4 linked regions of the Homo sapiens genome follow. The protein of the gene in region 1 purifies or fractionates together with the protein of each later gene. This does not show direct contact. Each region holds a gene or a part of one and is shown in the gene's direction. Other genes may lie near its edges.

Region 1 (4,252 bases):
TAGCCCCAGCTACTCAGGAGGCTGAGGCAGAGGAATCTCTTGAACCTAGGAGGCGGAGGTTGCAGTTAGCTAAGACCGCGCTACTGCACTCCAGCCTGGGCGACAGAGCAAGACTCTGTCTCAGAAAAAAAGAAAAAAAAAATTAGCTGGGCATGGTGACGCCTGCCTATAATCCCAGCTACTTGGGAGGCTGAGGCATGAGAATCACTTGAACCCAGAGGCAGAGGTTGCAGTGAGCCGAGATTGCGCCATTGCACTCCAGCGTGGGCCACAGAGGGAGATTCTGTCTTAAAACAAACAAACAAAACCCTCGAACCTTGGTGCCTCACACACACACCCATACTCACAGTACCTCTCTGGGTCCCCACAGGGCCCTGCCTCTCAGCCTGCTTTCCCCTCTTCACTCCAGCCACTCTGGCCTTTCACTTCCTGGACTCACCAAGGCCCTTTGCACGTCCTACTCGCTTGGTCCCATAGACACTCATCCGGCACAGGCTTGTGCCAGGCACTCAGCCAGGAGGCAGGAATGACATGGCCCCGCTTTCATGGCATTCCCACTCCAGGGGGAGACGTGATAAACAATAAACAAGACAGTCTCTGACAGTGTTAGGGTGGTAAAGAAAATAAAGGTGATGTGATCAGGAGTGGGGGGAGGGGAGCGCTCTGTTGGAGTCTGGCAAGGTGACGAAAGAACGAGGCGAGTAGCAGTCTGGGGTCAAGAGTTTCAAGCAGAGGGAATAGCAAAATGCAGAGGCTTGAATGGGAGAGTTTGGCGGCTAAGGAACAGGAGGGGCCGGGCGGCTCAGTGGTTAAGTGTAGGGTGAGTGGTTTGAGATGGGCCTGGGGTCAGGGTGAGGGGTTTGGGTTTTGTTCCATTGCCATGGGAGCCACTGGAGGCTTTAAGCACGAGAGTGACATCATCCAAGTTATGCTTTTAAAGATCACGCGGGCAGCTGAGCCCCTCCCTCTCGCTCACCACTAAATCCCCAGGGCCTAGCACTGCTGGCCCACAGTGGGTGTTCAATATCTATGTGTTCAATGAATGGATGTCCCCGACTTTGCTGTGTGACCTAGAGGTAGTGACTTCTTTCTCTAGATCTCTCAGTTTTTTCACCCAAAAGACGGGCAATGGGGATTTCACGCCGGAATGGGTGGGTGGCACAGGATTTAGGTTACTCGCCTCCCCAGGCGGCCCTAGCGACCCGAGTCCCCACGCCGAGGGCGGAAAATGGGGGTGCTCCCTTCGAGGGACCCCAGCCAATGTCCGGCGGCCCCGCCCCAGCCGGACCGAGGTCTGAAGGATGCTGCAGCCGTGGGGGCGGGACCCGCAGGCGATCGCCAGCGCCTCCCGCGTGGATTGGATGCAGCCGCAGTCGGCGCCATGCTATTGGTCGGCCGCGAGGTAGGGGCGGGGCCTGATTCCTGCAGCGGGGCGGCGGGGAATGCGGCCAAAGCCCGGGAAGCTGCTGCGGGGGCGATGGCTGCGCCGAGCCCGGGGCCCCGCGAGGTAGGTGCGGACCCGAGAGAGGACAGGAGAGGGAAGGGTTGGTGGGCAGGGGCCGGGCCTCCCCTCGGCGAGCGGCGCGGACACGCCCCCATCCAAGCCTGGGAGGGGCCCTGCAGCCGGCGAAGACCAGGACACGCCCCACACGGGGCGCCAGGTATCCCGAGGGGCGGCCTGGCGGATATCCCTCAACACTTCCTCAGCTTTCTCATTGGGAAAATGGAGAGGATGCTAAAGCTCCTCCTTCAGGGAGCTGTTAGGAGGTCAAGCTCTCATCCAGTGCGGGGCACGCGGTGGATGCCCACTACTGGTGGGTCAGCGGCTATGAAAAGCATCGTGCTGGCCCCTCCGTGCTGGCCTGGAGGCGCTCAGCATAGGCGAATGGAATAGATGTGACTGAATCACCGGCATCACAGCTCCTACTATCAAGGGCTCCCGTGCAAGGAGCTCAAACTCAAAAGTAACAAGAGTTCATACCTACCACGAAGAAGCTGTTCTAGTTTTCACGTTGCAGATGAAAAAATGAGGCACAGAAAGGTTAGGTGACTTACCTAAGGTCACAAGGTTGGTGAGAGACGGTCCATCTAAGGCCAGGTTTGACTGCAGAGTGCACGCCCTATCTACTGATAATCATAACCATTGCTCTATTCGGGTGCTGACTGCGTGCCAGGCACTGTGTGGCCCCTCTGGGTACCAGCATCATCTCTATTTTACAGCTGAAGAAATTGAGGCAGAGAGAGATGAGGGGAAGTCTCACAAGTAGTGGAAGTGGGACTTGAACCCTGATCTTTTTCCTCTGTGACGCTGCCACAGGCTGTGTCCTGTGCCTCCTCCCACCAGGTCCTGGCCCCCTCCCCTGAGGCTGGATGCAGAGCAGTCACCTCCAGCCGGCGGGGGCTTCTCTGGCGCCTCCGAGACAAGCAGTCTCGCCTGGGCCTGTTTGAGATCAGCCCGGGGCATGAACTGCATGGGATGACGTGCATGATGCAGGCAGGGCTGTGGGCTGCCACCCAGGTCTCCATGGACCACCCACCCACGGTGAGTGGCCCATCTGTCCCACGAATCTCCACACCAGCAATGGCAAGACTTGGCTGATGCCCTGTCTGGCTGAAACTGCAGGTGTGGGGATCAGAGAGGGATATCAAGGGGAGGAAGGCAGAGAGGGAGGAACATTGTGGTGTGGGAGCTGGAACGTCTGGGGTGCGTTGGGGGTGTGAGGAACCCCCTGACTCAGGTGGTTGCTGTGTGACTCTAGGTGGGTCTCTGCCTCTCTCTGGGCCTCAGTGTCCCCATCTGTATAATGGGGGGAGATTATACTCCTTGGTTTCTGAGGCCCTCCCAGCCCTGCCAGGGTATATGGTTGAAAAGGGACCCCCACCCCCACCCTGCTGGCCTAGCCCATCCTCTCTGGAGCTCAGGCTGAGGCAGGGCTGGCTCAGCAGAAAGGTGGCCCAACTGCAAGCTCAGCAGCTGGGCGGGCCTGGGTGAGCATGTGTGTGGTGTTCGTGTGTGTGCATGTGTGCGCAGTGGGACCACATTCCACAGACCACATCCGGGCACAGGGACCTGGAGATCCAGGGAAAGTGTAGAGACTCGAGGGAGTTCTCTAAATCACAAACTGACCTCATCACCTGCTGAAAAGCTTCCATGGCTCCCCAATACTCAGCATGACCTCCAGATCCAGCTGCATCCAGCCTTGTTCACACTCCATCCCTCCCTCACTGGCTTCAGCCACTTGGGCCCTCCTTCCCTTGCCGGCAGCCACCAGTGCTGTTTCTACTGGTGCGAGCACCCTGCTCCTCCTCTCCACTACCCTTTAGATTTCAGCTTAGAGGTCTCCACCCCCAGGAAGGCTTCTCTGATTTTGCCCCTCCCAGGTTGCATCAGGCAGGTCCCTTGGCTTCAGGGCCACCCCCTTGTACTGGACAGAATCTGGCTTCACTTGGCCAGCCTGTGAGTCTGGGAACGTGCCTGGCTTGAACTCATGGCCTGGTGCTGGTGATCCAGAGTGGATGAGATACACTCAGGCCTTGCCGTGGGTCACTCTTGTCCCCCTGGCATCCCTGGGAGGTGAGCAATGCATCTGCCCAACTCAGGCACTCTCAGAAACTCCGGTCCCGGTTTGCTGAAGGAATCCAATTGGAGGAGGTGGGGGACGGGCCAGGTGCAGGACATCTGGAGATCCTGGGGCAGGCAGCAGGGGACTGAGGGTTGCCCTGAGCTCCTCTACCTCTCCCTGCAGGGGCCGCCCTCCCGGGACGATTTCTCGGAGGTCCTAACCCAGGTTCACGAGGTAGGAGGCCCAGACTCCCGTGTGGGAGGGACGTGTGCTGGTCTTGCTCTCTCCTCTGCAGTTTTCCCATCTGTGCAGTGGGAGTGAAGGCTTGTCCCTGAGACTTGAGCCTTGCAGGAAGGGTGTGGTCACCCTGACCCTCCTGTCCCAGGACCAACTGCACACACCCGGGCCCACGCAGACACTCCAGAGGAGGCTCTTCCTCCCCTGCAGGGCTTCGAGCTGGGCACGCTGGCCGGCCCCGCCTTTGCCTGGCTGCGCCGCTCCCTGGGCCTGGCGGAGGAGGACTATCAGGCTGCCCTGGGCCCCGGCGGCCCCTACCTGCAGTTCCTCAGCACCTCCAAGAGCAAGGCCAGCTTCTTCCTGTCGTGAGCTTGCGGCAGGGGTGGGGCAGGGGTGGGAGTGGTACCCCTGGCTGGGAGGGCAGAATTCCCAGTGGCGGGGAAGGCCCCCTG
Region 2 (4,019 bases), on another chromosome or scaffold:
TTTGTAATCTAATCTCAGAATGGACATTCCATCTCCTGTGCTGCATTCTGTTCATGAGAAGAGAATCACTAAATGCAGCCCACACTTGAGAGAGAATTACACAATGGCATGGATCTCAGGAGGCAGGGATTATTGGGGGCAATCTTAGAGGGTACCTACGACACCTGGAGATTGAAACAGAAGAGGGCAGGGTACTGGGAAATATTTTATAGTATTCAAGAAGCTAAATATGGTTAATTAAAACAGTGTGCTTCTAAATCTAGTAGCTTCTCAGCCTCTTCTTTCCAAATTCTAAATTGATTCCAAAGTGAAAATTAGAGAAGCAGTATGAGATTTAAAAGGAGAGTCCTTTGTTGTTGTCTTCTAATTCTTTTTCTCTCTGCTTCCATTTTTTTTCTCCTGTTAGTACAACCTTGGAAAAGCTTGAAGTTGCAGAGTCAGAGTTCACCCATGTGAGTATCTGGGATGTGTGGGAGGTGAACGTTTTGCAAGGTATAAAGAGGATCACTGATGGCCTGGAGCAGGAAGTTAATTGTCAAGATTAGAGGATCTGGGTACCTCCTAAATCTTGTTTTTTATTTTTTATTATTTTTTTATTTTGTACTTATTTATTTATTTATTTATTTATTTTTGAGATGGCGTCTCACTCTGTTGCCCAGGCTGGAGTGCAGTGGTGCAATCTCAGCTCACCTGCAACCTCTGCCTCCTGGGTTCAAGCAGTTCTCCTGTCTCAGCCTCTGGAGTAGCTGGGACTACAGGTGCGTGCCACCACGCCCGGCTAATTTTTTATTTTTTAGTAGGCGCAGGGTTTCATCATATTGGACAGGCTGGTCTTGAACTCCTGACGTCGTGATCTGCCCACCTTGGCCTCTCAAAGTGCTGGGATTACAGCCGTGAGCCATTGCACCCAGCCATCGTGTTTGTGTTTTTGAGACGGAGTCTTGCTCTGTCACCCAGGCTGGAGTGCAGTGGCGCGATCTCGGCTCACTGCAAGCTACGCCTCCCAGGTTCACGCCATTCTGCTGCCTCAGCCCCTTGAGTAGTTGGGACTACAGGCGCCCACCACCATGCCCGGCTAATTTTTTGTATTTTTAGTAGAGCAGGGTTTCACCGTGTTAGCCAGGATGGCCTCGATCTCCTGACCTCGTGATCCACCTGCCTGGGCCTCCCAAAGTGCTGGGATTACAGGTGTGAGCCACCATGCGCGGCCGCCATCTTGTTTTTTAAAAAATATTTTTGGTACCTCATACTTGGAGGCTGAGGCTGAAATAGAAATTTCTTAACGCTTGAATTCCATTTCTGCTTAATCTCATACTCCACATCCTTAACTTTACACTCTCCCTTTTCAGTAAGCGCAAAGCCTCAGAAGACCTGGAACAAGATTCTGCCATCTCTGTGATCCCAAGATGTCAGCCCTTGCCCCAGCAATGCTGAATTTTCTTCTACTTGGTCATCAAAAAAGGAGTGTAATAGAAGTGAGGGGAGCTGCTCCTCCATCTTCTTCCTGAAGAAGAACCTTCTCTCCTTCCTCTTCCTCATGAATGGGCCTTAGTGCCTCAGAGAGTTGAGGACCGCAGCATCCCCTCCACTCCAGAGTTGGGTGGTATGGATTTTCAACTGGCCAACCCTTTGCCTCCACTATTGAATTTTTTTCAGACCCCCATTCTTCATGCTGGAAATGGGATTGCTGGACTTGGCAGCTTTCTTTCCCCTCGTCTTTGACTAGGAACCGGACTCTTAATTTCCTCAGGACAGACTAGCTGGCACATTATCCCTACCTTAGTTCTTTCTCTCTGACTCCTGGAAGAATACTCCTGTAATCTCTGTAAAGGTTTTTGGGGGATAAGGGTGTTTAACCACCTCCCAGCTTTCTTCTTCTTTTTTTTTTTCTGAAAAAAGGAAAAAGCACACAGCACACAATTTCAAGCCATTTTCAGATCAGAACTCCAGAAGTGTTGACAAGATGCCTATTCGTAGAGTTCCCTCAGAAGAGCCATGGTGTTTATGAAGAGAAGAGTAGTGATTGCTCTGCCAGAAGCAGCTCCTCTTTAAACTCCTCCTCTCTTGATGAATTTCTTAAGGCTGAAGGAATGAAGAGAGTGGGACATGGGGTAATCTTTATCCCTTTTGTTAAAACAGGAGGCAGCCATGGGCTGGGAGATCATAGCCCTTCCTAGGCAGAATCCTGTTCACTGCCAGGCTATAGTAATTATTACTATTTTGCAATTTGAAATATATTCTGGTTGTTTTTCTAAATGTGAAGACTTACCAAATGAATTTTAGATCATTCTCCAGAGGAGATTTTTTTTGCTCTTCTCATCTTTTCCAACAGTGTTCTCCTGTTTGTGGAGCTAAGGTAAAGAGGGGACACTTCTGTCTGTTTAACAGACAGTCCATATCTGTGAGGCCAGCAAATATTTTCTTAAACTCATGGGGAGACAGCAGATTCTTGCCTTGGTGAGGTCATTGCTGTGCCATATGTCCTACCCCCCTGTCTTCATGCAGGGAAGTTGGAAATGGGGGCTACATATGCCCTCTCCTCCCCGTCTACAAGAGTTGTGGTTTTCCATCTGATCCTTCCACTCTTGTCAGGGGAAGAAGGGGGCCTGGTATCTCAGGCAGATTGTTGAATTCCTGTTCTATCCCTTCTCTATCCCACCCTGCCTTGATAATATGTTAGCCCATACCCCAAATAACTGTCTATATTAGACACCCCCAGCCAGTTTCTGGCTGCCTGTCTTTGCTGCCATGTTTTTTACAAGAAGGAAAGAATTCTTGCTATTTTTTTTTCATAATTTACTATTTATGATGTATTTAAGTGTTTTATTAAGGACAGAGTTCTGTTAGGGGTGGGAGGGAATATTTGAGGGAGGGCTGGGTCTTAGGGAAAGGAATGGGGAAGCAACATTTTTATTAAGTGTTACTATTTGCCTCTACTTTGTATTGTTCAGAAATGGCAAATACAATATAAAAGTGATATATGGTTTTAATGTAATAAACTTTAATGAGTTATTTAGACCTCTTATTTTTTCTGATTCTTTTTCATATACCATCTGCTCACCCTCCTACTCCACCACCCAGGCTCAGTTTTGTTCATGTTGCCCTAAACAAAGGCTGCATACTTTCCAGCTTGCAACACTCCAGCTTCACTCTTAAGGCTTTATGTCCTTATATCCTCTTCCTCAGCAACCCCATTATCTTCACGAGGAAAAGCAGTGAATGAATATGAGGGGAGTTACTGTAGGTCTCTTGCCTAGGTTGCAACCCAATTTAACAGGGATTTGAGGTTCAAAACTCACTTTACTCAGTTAAGTGAGGAAAGGAGAGGGACAGTGGGAAAAGTAAGTTTGAGGTTAGCTGGCCCTAGTGATTCCCTCCCTTTCGTTCTCTTGACCTGGCCCTAGGGCGTCACTCTTAGAAGATCATAGAGATTGCTTTCTTTAGCTGTTTTCTTTTGTGAGGTTGAGCTAAGGCTCCTTTGATAGGAAACTAGACAAAAAAGTAGGGGCGGGCCAGGCGCGGTGGCTCACACCTGTAATCCCAGCACTTTGGGAGGTGGAGGCAGGTGGATCACCTGAGGTCAGGAGTTCGAGACCAGCCCAGCCAACATGGCAAAACCCCGTTTATTGAAAATTAGCAGGGGATGGTGGCATGCGCCTGTAGTCCCAGCTACTTTGGAGGTCAAGGCTGGAGAATTGCTTGAACCTGGGAAGCAGAGGTTGCAGTGAGCGAAGATTGCGCCAGTGCACTCCAGCCTAGGCGACTGAGACTGTCTAAAAAAAAAAAAAAAAAAAAGGAGCGGTGAGGTTCATTCTGAGGCATGAAGATAGGGAACCTTTGGAGAGAAGCAGTTAAGCAAACAGCTGCTTTTCATACCACTATTCCCTATCTTGTTAAGGGCACTCCAAATATTTATATAGCAGCTAATGAGCAATGCATGGAGTAGATGGAGATCAAAGAAATAATTGTCCTTCAAAAGTTTCTAGTTTCCAGGAGGAACACAAATCACAAAAACAATA
Region 3 (4,941 bases), on another chromosome or scaffold:
ACTCCTGACCTCAGGTATCTGCCCACCTCGGCCTCCCAAAGTTCTGGGATTACAGGCGTGAGCCACCACGCCCGGCCTTAATCTTTGTATTTTTAGTAGAGATAGGGTTTCGCCATATTGGCCAGGCTGGTCTTGAACTCCTGACCTCAAGTGATCCACCTGCCTTGGCCTCCCAAAGTGCTGGGATGACAGGCGTGAGCTCCTGCACCTGGCCTGTATCCCCGTTTCTAATGCTGTAGCAGAAGGATACTGTCATCCCTGCCCACGTGCTGTGTGTGCCCGGGATGCCCCTCCCAGAGAGCGGCTCTGAGGTGGCTGCTGCCACCCTCCTCCCTGCGGGCCAGTTCTTTCAGGGCTCAGGTGGGGACCCTGTTTTGGCCCCACATTTTCAAGTCCCCATGGGATCCATCAGTGCAGCCACCAAATCAGTACTGAGCACCCACATAGGCTCCCCATGCCGGGCTCTCAAGGGACGTTGGGTGGACCTGACCTGCCATTCCCACGTCAGGGATTCCAGGCTGCATTTGCTACCCTGGAGGAACAGGCAAGGCCTGCGCTGGGGTCCTGGCCCCTCAGTGCAGGAGTCAGTCCTCCGCGATGCGGCCTCGCAGGGCAGGAGTGCGCTGCCCTCGGTGCCCAGGGCCCGGGAACAGGGGTCTTGTGGAAGCTGTAGGATCGGGCAGGGTGGAGTGAGCACAGAGGTGGGCCCTTTAGAGGGAGCATGGAGGCAGAGCCCGAGGCAGGGAGAGGCAGTGCTCCTGCAGGTGAGGTCTGGGCTCACCTGGAGCACAAGGGAGGCCCCTGCTGGCCCAGGCTGGGCAACTGGGAGCTGGCAGAGGCATGGGTTGGCCTGGGCAGCAGGTGGGCAGCGTCATCCTGACTGGAAGGACGAGCAGTGGGTCTTGGGGTGATGGACTGGGTTGTGACTGTGGCGAGTTTAGGGGCCGAGGGCCGCCAGGTGGACGTGGCCAGGCAGGTGTGTATTCAGGCCTGGCACTTCAGGCCGAGGCCAGGCCTGGTGGAAATTCGCAGGTCATCTGTGCCGGGAGGGGCGTTGAAGGCTGGGTTGGTGACAGAGGCCCGAGAGAGAGGAGGACACAACAAGGAAGACAGGGCGGCCAGGCTGGAGCCCTGAGAAAGCAGAGCAGCCTAGGGGCAGGAGAAGCAGGGGGAGCTTGAGGGGGTGGGGGCTCCTCAGGAGGCGGGACGGAGGTGTTGGAGGAACGCACCCTCCCTCCCTCCCCAGATCCCACCCAGACCTGGGACCCCTCACGCAGGCACAGCTGGGAAGAGCTGTCCGTGTCCCTGCACACGGCCCTGCCTGTGCCTAGCCCTGAACTTGGCCCTCACTCTGCCCTGCTGCTCAGGAAGGCGTCTCCTGGCTCTTGCAGGGTGGGTGGTCCGAGCCTCAGTCTCTCCTAGCACGTCTGTGCTGGCAGAGGGGACTGGCCCTGCCCGCAGGCAGCCATATATTCAGGTCCCAAAAGGCTTCTGGGTTGGGAAGTAGGTCCGGCACCCCGACCTCCCAGGACCCCCATAGAGAGCTTCCAGGAGCCTGTGCGCTGGTGCCCGTGGCACAGGCAGGATTGGGGGCTGTGGTGGGGCCGGGCTGTGGAGGAGGAGGAGGAGGAGGAACACTCGGTGCTCCAGGTCGCGACCCCCACCCGCTTCCGCCGGCTCTGTCACCTGCTATCTCAGGCCCTGCCTCGACTGAACTAACTGCTTTCTGCCGCCCGCCGTGCCCCGCCCCGCCAAGCTGAGCTGAGGCCCCAGGCCCGTCCAGGTTGGGAGCAAGTCCACCGGGTCAGAGAGGGCAGCTGGGCTGAGCCACCCCTCGTCTTCCATGGGGGATTCGCCTCTTTTATGTTCTCCTGTCTCTTCCTTCCTCCCTCTGCCTCTCTTGCACCTCCTCGCACCCTGCTCTTCCGCGCCCTCCTGCACGCGCGCCCACCTGCCAGCCCACCGATGAGAGGAGCTGGGTGTACTCCCCGCTCCACTATAGCGCCCAGGCCCCCCCGGCCTCCGACGGCGAGAGCGACACAGTAAGTGCAGCCCAGGTGCACCCGCCGGTCCCGTGGGCTCCAAGGTTCTACTGAGCGTGGTCCCCAGCTACTGGGATAGGCAGGGACTGAGGCCCGGGGCGGGAGGGCACAGGTGGCCCAGAGCTCCACCCTGGGCTCTCTGGCTCTGAGGTGGCCGTGGGCTAAGTGTCTCAGGGCCTGTGTTGGCCCAAGGAAGCCAGTCCCTGGCAGGGGGCCTGGGGTGGGCCCTCGCCCCGCCCACCTTCACCTGTCCTCTTGCTCTTGCAGTAATTTCTATGCAGCCCCCGACCCAGAGCCGAGCTCCACTTCTGCTCCGGCTGCCCCCGAAGGCGCTGCCCACCCCGCTGAGGCCCAGAGCTCGGGAGATGCCCGCCTCGCCGCCCCACCGGACCTCGTCCTCCCCCTGCACGGATGCCGACGGCCGGGCCCCTCCCCGACAAGCCTCCCAGGGCCCCGGCACCCCGGTCGGCAGCCTGCCCCTGTGAGACCCACCCTCCCGAGCGGCCAATCGCATTTGAGTCCTTATTTGGCACAGAGACGGAAGCACGTGTGTGCCGTTTTAGGAAAAGAACAAAAAAGACACAAACAAACCAACCAGAGGGAGAAGAGCCCCTGCCCACTGCACTCTTTGGTTCTCTGCTGTGCCTGCCTGTGTCCTGAGGAAGAAGCCAGGCTGTTCGCGGTGGCCTCTGGGGACCTGAGCCCCGGGGGCCCCATCGGCCTGCAGAGGGGACGGCTGGGGTCCCGAGCAACTCTGCCTCCATCCACGTGGGAAGCGGACCCTCCTGCCCTCAGCTTGGGTTTGGGGGCCTCAGTGCAGGACATCTGGCCTGAACATCGACTGTGGGGACAGCCCTCGCCCTGCCAAGCACTGCGGCCACTCAGCAGCTATGTTCCCGCCGCAGTGGGGCCCTGACGCCCACCTCCCAGGTGCCCCTCGAGCAAAAACCTCTGGCGCCTCCAATCCAGACCCACCACAGCTGGAGGGCCAGGCCTCCTCTTCCCCAGGCTGCCACCCACGCTGGCGGAGCTCAGGGCTGGGGACTTGTCCTTCTCTTCCAACGTAGGCCACTCAGCAACTGGCATGGAGGGCCCAGGCAACGGAGACGTTTTCTCCATGGCAGGACAGAGCGGGAGGCCGGGCCTTGGGCCACAGGAGACCAGCTCAGGGCGGAAGGTCAGGCTCCCCGCCCCCTCCACGTGGAGACATGGCCTAGGGGGCCAGGCCCGGCTCCACAGGAGTCTCCTTCAGGACTGGTGTGGATGTCCGCCGCCTCTTTCTTGTTTAAGTGATGTGATGTCTCCGAGGAGGGGAGAGAAGACTTTGTTTCCGACTCATCACCCTCCAAGAGGGCAGCGCTCCCAGTGGTGGGACTCAGCCCAGACTGCCCTGGGGCAGCTTCCTGGGCCCGCTGCGCTCAGAGGGTGCTGGTTGGAGGCCAGAGCTCGGCAGAGTCACCCACCCTGCCCTTCCCCAGGACCCCTGAGAGGGGCTTATTGGTGATGGCTGTGGGAATCCCCCACTTCCAAGATGTGCCCAGGATGTGAGGAGCTGGAGTGGAAGCTGCACCTTTGGGAAGAATTCCTCTCCAGACCTGGCAGAGCCTGGTGTGGGGTCTGAGACGGCCGGAGAACCTCCCAGGCAGGGCTCTGTGTTTTGTCTGTTACAACCTCCGTATGACGCCACGCCACCCGCTGTTCACGTCCCGTCGGCCTCCTGCACAGCCCACACGCTGCGCCCGGAAGGCCCCTGCTGTGGAGAAGCCGGACCCATCCCCGAGGTCCCCAGCGAGGACACACACTCCACGAGAGCAGCCCCTCCACTCTGCCCAGGAGAGGGGCCGACCCTCCTCGGGAACCGGCCAGCCGCGTGGCTCCCAGCATCCATCAGGACAAGCCCACGTGGGGTCCTCCCTGCGTGCTCAGAGGGTCTGTCCAGCCCTGGGAAGCGACCTTGGCCTCAGTTCACAGCCTGGTGCTCATCTGCTGGCACCGGGCATCCACCCATCAGCCCCCGCCCTGTCCCTCCGAAGGACACCCAGCAGGCACCCCCCGGGGAGGCAGGGGCAGAGGTCAGAAGGGGTGTCTGGGACCTGGATGGCCAGCAGGGACAGGGGCATTGTCATCTCAAAGGCCCAACCCCCAGAGGCCACACCAGTCCTCCCAGGGAGTCCTCGAGTCGCCCTGCCCAGAGCCCTGGCACCAGAGACGCCAAGAGCCTGTGGGGTGACTCGGAGCAGCAGGTGTGGCCCCGGGCGGGCGGCACCGCGTCCAGGGCAGCCTCCCTCCGCTGAGTGACACGGGACACCAGTGCCCGGCCGACGCGCCTTTGCAGGAGAAATGTGCAAACCTCTGTGGATACCATTTCATTTCCATTCTTGTGTTGTCTCCAAGGCCCTTTTGGAGATATACTTGGTGTTGGTTGTGTTTTTTGGTTCCTTTTCAGAGAACTGTAAACCGAGGCTGACGTGCTCCACTGACTGTGCCGAGGGGCGGGGGCAGGAGGACGGCAAGACCTATTTATAATATTTAGCGAACTCGGTCTCCCTCAGATCCCCCGCGAGGGAGGCTGCTGGACCCACCCCGCTGTCCCCCATGATAGAAGTCTGTAAATACCTTGGTGACCAATGCCCACTTCCCCTCCTGGGTCACCTCTGATGGCTGCTGTCCACTGAGAACGTGGGCAGTGTCCAAATTCCTGTACTGTAAAGACTAAAAGGCGTTTGCTCTGAGACTGACAAGGCGGAAACTTCCATGTGTCTCCTGCCAGGCTCTGTCCCCCTACGCCATCCCGACACGTCCCCGTTCCCCCGAAACCTGGCTCAGTGCAATACTCCCATTGCCATGGGGTCCTTCACCATGGTACTGTCTCCACAGCCCTCAGTCCCCACCCCAGGAG
Region 4 (6,048 bases), about 59 Mb from region 1:
CGGCCAAGTGTAAACCAGTGGGAGGTTGAGTGAGTTTCATGTGTGATCTCTGAGCGGAGGGAAACGGTGGTTCTGATATGGTCCTGTGGGCAGAGACTTATGAGGACTGATGAGAAAGCTGGTGAGTTTGAGACTGATGTATGATGACATCTTACCTGAGAAGGAAAACTGTGAAGCACTAAATGATAGAACCACATTACATTTTTGTCCACGTTAAGACTAGAGAGATTTAATAATAACACCTTACATTTGCATCAGTGTCTTGCAATTTGTAAATTCTTTTGAGTGTTCTCACCTAATTCCAAACATTTCTGAGGGAGGCAGGGCAAAGACTTTTTACCATGTAAACACAGAAGGAACATGAGGCTCACAGATTCAGAGATTTATCAAGGTAACAAGTGCTGGTATTAGAATCACAGTTAGGTTTTCTGTCATAACCAGGTGCCTGCTCTGTACTTATATAAGGTGGTTTTTTAAATGGCAGAGTTCTTCTGCATTTATTGTGGTCTGCATAGTCTCACTGTAAATTACTGTTTACATTTTACAGATGAGGAAACTGAGGTTTAGACAAGCAGTGGGAGTTTTCCATGGATTTACATCTCATTTAGTGGCATTTGCAAGACTAGAACTTGGATCTTCTGATGTCCAGTCCATTGCTTTGTGTATTCTGCCATCATTTCAGTTCTGATAGCAATGAGGACACATCATGGAAACTGCAATACACAAAGGACTGTTAAGCATGCCCCCAGTGACCTGGGTTCTAGTTCTGGGACTACATTTGGCCGTATGACCTGGGCCATCATATCACTTCCAAGTCTCAAGTGTCTCACATATAAAACAAAACGTTTGTATGAAATTATGTTTTTTCTTTCCAACTTTAGCATTTTGTGATGTTTACCAATGTGTTTGTAATCCAATGTTATCATTTTCTCTAGAGGAAGGAGACCTTTGTACCCCACATCACCTAAGAGACCTAGCTAATTACTCTTTCACCTTTAGTTTATCCCTTCCCCCCTTTACTACATGCCACTTCATCAAAGGAATGAAACTTAACAAGTGCGTTTTAGCTTAACATCTACAGTATATTGTTTAGTTTACTGTTTGACTTGAAAATATTCTGAGGGGTTAAAGTACTGTAAGGTACATGTCAGGGCTTACTTGAATATTCTAATTGTAAGCTCATAACTTTTTTTTTTTAGCTTTATGGTTTGCATAAAGTAAGTGCTCAGTAAATAGCTGTTGAATTAATGAAGGGGGTGAATGAAGTCATTCATAAGGAAAACATATGCTGTAAAACATAGAAAGCATCTTACCATGTAAATTCCCAACACATAAGATAATTTGCCTACAGGCATGTGCCTCCTGAAGCTGGCGGGTACAGAGCCCATTGTTGCTCTCTTTTCTGAAGGCATCATATAGGGAAGAGCTTTTCTTTCTCCCTAGACAGTAGACTCATGTCATCTATGTTATGCTCTTTTGTTTGCCGCCCCCCCGCCCCTTTAGTTGTTAGTATTACAGCTGCTGAAAGATACATTCCTAGAAATTGACTTGTCCCATTTTATGAAAGGGTATGTCTTGACATGGGGAAACCAACCATTCTGTTTTTAAAACAGGGTATTGAATAAATTTCAGGAGATGCTAATACTGTCTCGTGGTTTCAGAGGGGGAACCTAGTTAACAAAACCAACCTAGTTTCTGTTCCTTTTAACAATCTTCTCTTTCTACTCCTCCTCTTTATATACAGACAAGTAGTGTTTTTATGTTTGGAAGAATGATAAGAAAGAATATAGTGATCTTAAATATTATTAATGGATCTGCAATTTACATTGGGGATTGATGTATGTTTCCTTCTGATAAAGAATTTAAATATTAATTAGTTTAGAAGTACCGTTTATGGGTAAGAAAACTAAAACTTAGGTGAATTGACTTACTTATGGTCACAAAGATGATAGCAGGAGGACCAAGATCAATGTGGAATTCTTAAGAAGGTTCATATTTGAGTTTGTCCCAGGAGTTCTATGGTGAAGGTACAGTTTTGACTTTTAGAAATCATAGAGATTAACAGAAAACTTCTGTTTACTATCATTATTAGAGAGTTAGTACATTTGAAAATGGTTTAGCATTTATATGTTTAAGTTTTCTTGCCCAAGCAGATGCCATTAAAAATAACATGTTTTTTTCTCTTTACTTTTTTTTTGTTTTTTGAGTCAAGGTCTCATTCTGTTTCCCAGGCTGGAGTGCAGTGGCCCAACTCCAGCCTCAACCTCCCCAGGCTCAGGTAATCCTCCCACCTCAACTTCCTGAGTAGCTGCAACAACAGGCACGCACTACCATGCCTGGCTAATTTTTGTATTTTTGGCAGAGACAGGGTTGCACCATGTTGCCTAGGCTGGTCTGTAACTCGTGGATTCAAGCAATCCACAGGCATCGGCTTCCCACAGTGCTGGGATTACAGGTGTGAGACCCTGTGCTCGGCCAAAATGTTTGTTTTTATCTATTCACTATGATTCTTCTGGCTTATGTGCATCACCAGACTCAGAAATAATACTTTGCTCCAATCAGTGCTGGGAGAGAGGAAACTGTTCAAATAGAAACCAAAGACCTGTAATCCCATGGGAGGCCGAGGTGGGCGAATCACTTGAGCCCAGGAGTTTGAGACCAGCCTGGGCAACATAGCAAGACCCCATCTATGCAAAAATAAAAAATTAGCTGGGTATGGTGGCACGTGCCTGTGGTCCCAGCTACTTGGGAGGCTGAAGTGAGAGGATCACTGGAGCCTAGGAGTTCAAGGTTGCAGTGAGCTATGATCGCACCACTGTACTCTAGCCTGGGTGACACAGCAAGGCCTTGTCTCAGAAAAGAAAGGAAAAGAAACACAAATGTATGCTGGTATTCTCAACTTCTCTTCCTGATATATAAAGCCAGAAGCCAAAGGTAGCCTTGTCATGCAGCTGGTAAAGTCATAAATATGTATACATTCAATTTGCATTTGCATTTTGCTTGTACTTCTGTTAGATGGTGAGTCAGAACATTTAATATCCTGGAAATTTTTTTTTCCCCCTATGGCCAGAGCCTTCAGTAGATTCTGTAAAACATCAAGTCCTAAATGTATTTGTTGCTGAAACATGTTCTCTTTGTATCAAGTGCATTAATGGGAGTTGGAAGGAATCCTTCATTTTTTTTTAGAAGCTGGCCAGTTAGAACTGTACATTATGTAGCTCTACTGTTCATTTGTGGTCTTATCAATAGAGCAGGATGTGTTACTTTTTGCTGAGTGCCAGAGAACTGGGGTGGGAGGAAACCTAGGCTTCTGTTTTATTTTTTTTCTTTTTAAAAATCAACTTTAAACTTAATTTATGATGAAATTTTTGGGGTACTGTGTCGTAAACAATCAGCTGCTATTGACAGAGAATTGTATTCAGTCAGGTTCCTTTTCATATATAAGATTAGGTCAGGGAAAACAGGCTTGCTTTTGTACATTCTATTCTCAATTGTATTTACTTCTGTATCGCTTCATCAGAGGTATATAAAGGAGATAATCACACAGGAAAACACAGGAATCCTGCCCAAACTAGATTACTCTTGGAAAGATTTGAAACAGAGTGATTGGGACAAGGTTGCATGTTCAGTAAGCTGACAGTGCCTTGGTATTATCATTTTAAGTTAAAACAAACTAGCACTGGAATAAACAACATGAAGTGTGTGTTCTTGTAGGAAGTCTTCTGTATTGTTTATGGGACTCAATAAACAATGAATATGTAACATGTTTGGGTAATTTACATGATGGATGCACAGTAAGTTCTTGAGACTCATTTTCTCTAATGTTTTTAGAAAATCAATTGTGAAATTGCAATGAAATATAAAGCATTGAGGGTTTGGTATTGCTCCTGGTTTTAAAATGGGTGTGTATGTCTTTCAGTGGAAGTTCAGGCAAGGATTGGAATTGTAAGTACTAGGGGTCCAGAGATTATAATTATCTTGAATTGGAACTAAAGTTCAGACAGGACTGCAGAAAGTTCATTCAGTTTGTAAGAGAAAAGGTGATATTTAAGCCTTCACCATTCAGTCATGCTGAGCAAGGGGTTTGTGGGGGAGGATAAAATTAGAGCGAGCCATAAAAATGTGCTTTCCTTGCTTCGTAGACAGACTTAAGACATGCAGTGGATTCGACATGTTTCATAGTGGGCTTTTAATTTAATATACACTTTTTTTCTTTCTTTTTTAAACCATGCCCATCATTGTGCTCTCTGGATCACTTGATCATATGTTTGGTAATAAAGTAAGGAAACAAAACAGCAACAACAATTAAAAAGCAATGCAACGACCTCCTTGAGGGAGTAGTAAGCACATCATAGGTGTTCAGCAAATATTTGACAATGGAAAAGGTTAAGCATCATGTTTTATTTATATTTGTATTCTTGGAACTTGGCACTGTGTCTGGCAGGTGGTGAGGATTTAATGAGTGTTTACTGAACAATTTATATATCCAAATGAATATCACTCTTCAAAATCTTGGGATGTTCCATAATTATTCTAATGATTCTATTATTTTTCGAACCATTTTAGAAATATTAGGCAGTCTGATAGATGCTAATGTTGATAGTTTATAGTAGTCCTTTTTTTAAATCATAAATTATATTTATTCACTAGACTACAACTTTTTTAACCAAAATGCCTAGGAATAATTTTGCATTATTTATCTTCTTTAGGAGAAAAATAAATACTAAATATATTCTGTTTTTATTTGAAAGTATTCAGTAAGCGTAGTTCTCAAATGCCCAGAGTGGCTTAATAGTGAGTTTGGTTCAGGGTACAGAGACAAGAATGGACTTTAAGCTTCTCTAAGTTAATCAGCTTAAATATCACCTCCTCCTGGCGACTTTTCTGTTCTTCCAACCTAAAGGAGACCTTCTCCATATGTTTTGTTCACTTGTCACAGGGATACTGATACAGTTTTGACGTTTGTCCCTTCCAAATCTCAGGTTGAAATGTGATTCCCCATGCTAGAGGTGGGGCCTGATGGGAAGAATTTGAGTCATATGGATGGATCCCTCATGAATGGCTTAGTACACTCCCCATGGTAATGAGTGAGCTCTTGCTCTATGAGTTTACATGAGATCTGGTTGTTTCAAAGCGTGTGGCATCTCCTACCCCTCCCTTGCTCCCTCTTTTACATGGACTCCCCCTTCACCTTCCGCCATGACTGTAAGCTTCCTGGGGCCCTCTCTCACCAGAAGCAGATGCTGGCACTGTGCCTTATGTACGGCTTGCAGAACTGTGAGCCAAAATAAAACCTCTTTTCTTTATGAATTATGCAGCCTTAGGTATTCCTTTATGGCAATGCAAAAACAGATTAACACGGATACTTATTCATTTATGTATTTCACTTGTTTCCCTGTGTCCAAACTCACATTCAACCCAAGATTATAAACTCTTTGAGGGCAGAGGCCATGGTTCATAACACTGTTTTTCTAGTGTTTGGCACATGGTAGGTCCTCAGTAAATATTTAAATGAATACATGAATAAGCCCCATCCATCCTGTCAAGATGAAGTGGGCCATCATTTAGGTTACTCAAGCTGAATCAGACTGAGAGGACAGTGCTTACGTGTTAGCTATGGCAGCTCCTTTACAATGATGACCGAACCCTTTAGGATGAGAAAACCACTTGTTTAGATGATAAATTCTGGCATGATTATTAAGAAAACACTGTCTCTATTTAAAGACTGATTTCTTCCATTTACTTAGAAATGAATAGTAGTGAACAAAGAAGAGGAAATTATCAAGCACAAAACAAAACGTTGCTACACTGTTAAAATGGGCTCTAAATGTACCTAAATCATAAACATATTCATTCCTAATTAAGACACTTTGGTGTTCATATACAAGGCAATTCCTATGATGCCTCACATAAAGGTGGTATTTGAGCTGGTATTTATTTGAACATCAGCTACATCAACAGTCCCAATACCATGGAAGAAGCCAGGGCAGTGACTCTGAAAGTGCAGTCCTTAGACCAACAGAGTCATCACTACCTGAGAATTTGTTA

The links.
Region 2: the proteins of PIP5KL1 (region 1) and PIP5K1A purify together in Homo sapiens (affinity purification with western blotting, with the first as the bait; one study listed by BioGRID). This does not show direct contact.
Region 3: the proteins of PIP5KL1 (region 1) and PIP5K1C purify together in Homo sapiens (affinity purification with western blotting, with the first as the bait; one study listed by BioGRID). This does not show direct contact.
Region 4: the proteins of PIP5KL1 (region 1) and PIP5K1B purify together in Homo sapiens (affinity purification with western blotting, with the first as the bait; one study listed by BioGRID). This does not show direct contact.

The regions. Positions count from the first base shown.
Region 1 is NC_000009.12:127,927,978-127,932,229, reverse strand, and holds the start of PIP5KL1 (phosphatidylinositol 4-phosphate 5-kinase-like protein 1), read left to right. Parts: upstream 1-1,452; 5' UTR 1,453-1,477; coding exon 1,478-1,507; intron 1,508-2,344; coding exon 2,345-2,542; intron 2,543-3,746; coding exon 3,747-3,797; intron 3,798-4,010; coding exon 4,011-4,165; intron 4,166-4,252. UniProt on the Homo sapiens protein: May act as a scaffold to localize and regulate type I PI(4)P 5-kinases to specific compartments within the cell, where they generate PI(4,5)P2 for actin nucleation, signaling and scaffold protein recruitment and conversion to PI(3,4,5)P3.
Region 2 is NC_000001.11:151,246,514-151,250,532, forward strand, and holds the end of PIP5K1A (phosphatidylinositol 4-phosphate 5-kinase type-1 alpha), read left to right. Parts: intron 1-406; coding exon 407-452; intron 453-1,349; coding exon 1,350-1,352; coding exon of another isoform or gene 1,353-1,434; 3' UTR 1,435-3,018; downstream 3,019-4,019. UniProt on the Homo sapiens protein: Catalyzes the phosphorylation of phosphatidylinositol 4-phosphate (PtdIns(4)P/PI4P) to form phosphatidylinositol 4,5-bisphosphate (PtdIns(4,5)P2/PIP2), a lipid second messenger that regulates several cellular processes such as signal transduction, vesicle trafficking, actin cytoskeleton dynamics, cell adhesion, and cell motility.
Region 3 is NC_000019.10:3,630,538-3,635,478, reverse strand, and holds part of PIP5K1C (phosphatidylinositol 4-phosphate 5-kinase type-1 gamma), read left to right. Parts: intron 1-1,698; coding exon of another isoform or gene 1,699-1,719; exon of another isoform or gene 1,720-1,783; intron 1,784-1,958; coding exon 1,959-2,042; intron 2,043-2,309; coding exon 2,310-2,312; 3' UTR 2,313-4,941. UniProt on the Homo sapiens protein: Catalyzes the phosphorylation of phosphatidylinositol 4-phosphate (PtdIns(4)P/PI4P) to form phosphatidylinositol 4,5-bisphosphate (PtdIns(4,5)P2/PIP2), a lipid second messenger that regulates several cellular processes such as signal transduction, vesicle trafficking, actin cytoskeleton dynamics, cell adhesion, and cell motility.
Region 4 is NC_000009.12:68,707,056-68,713,103, forward strand, and holds part of PIP5K1B (phosphatidylinositol 4-phosphate 5-kinase type-1 beta), read left to right. Parts: intron 1-6,048. UniProt on the Homo sapiens protein: Catalyzes the phosphorylation of phosphatidylinositol 4-phosphate (PtdIns(4)P/PI4P) to form phosphatidylinositol 4,5-bisphosphate (PtdIns(4,5)P2/PIP2), a lipid second messenger that regulates several cellular processes such as signal transduction, vesicle trafficking, actin cytoskeleton dynamics, cell adhesion, and cell motility.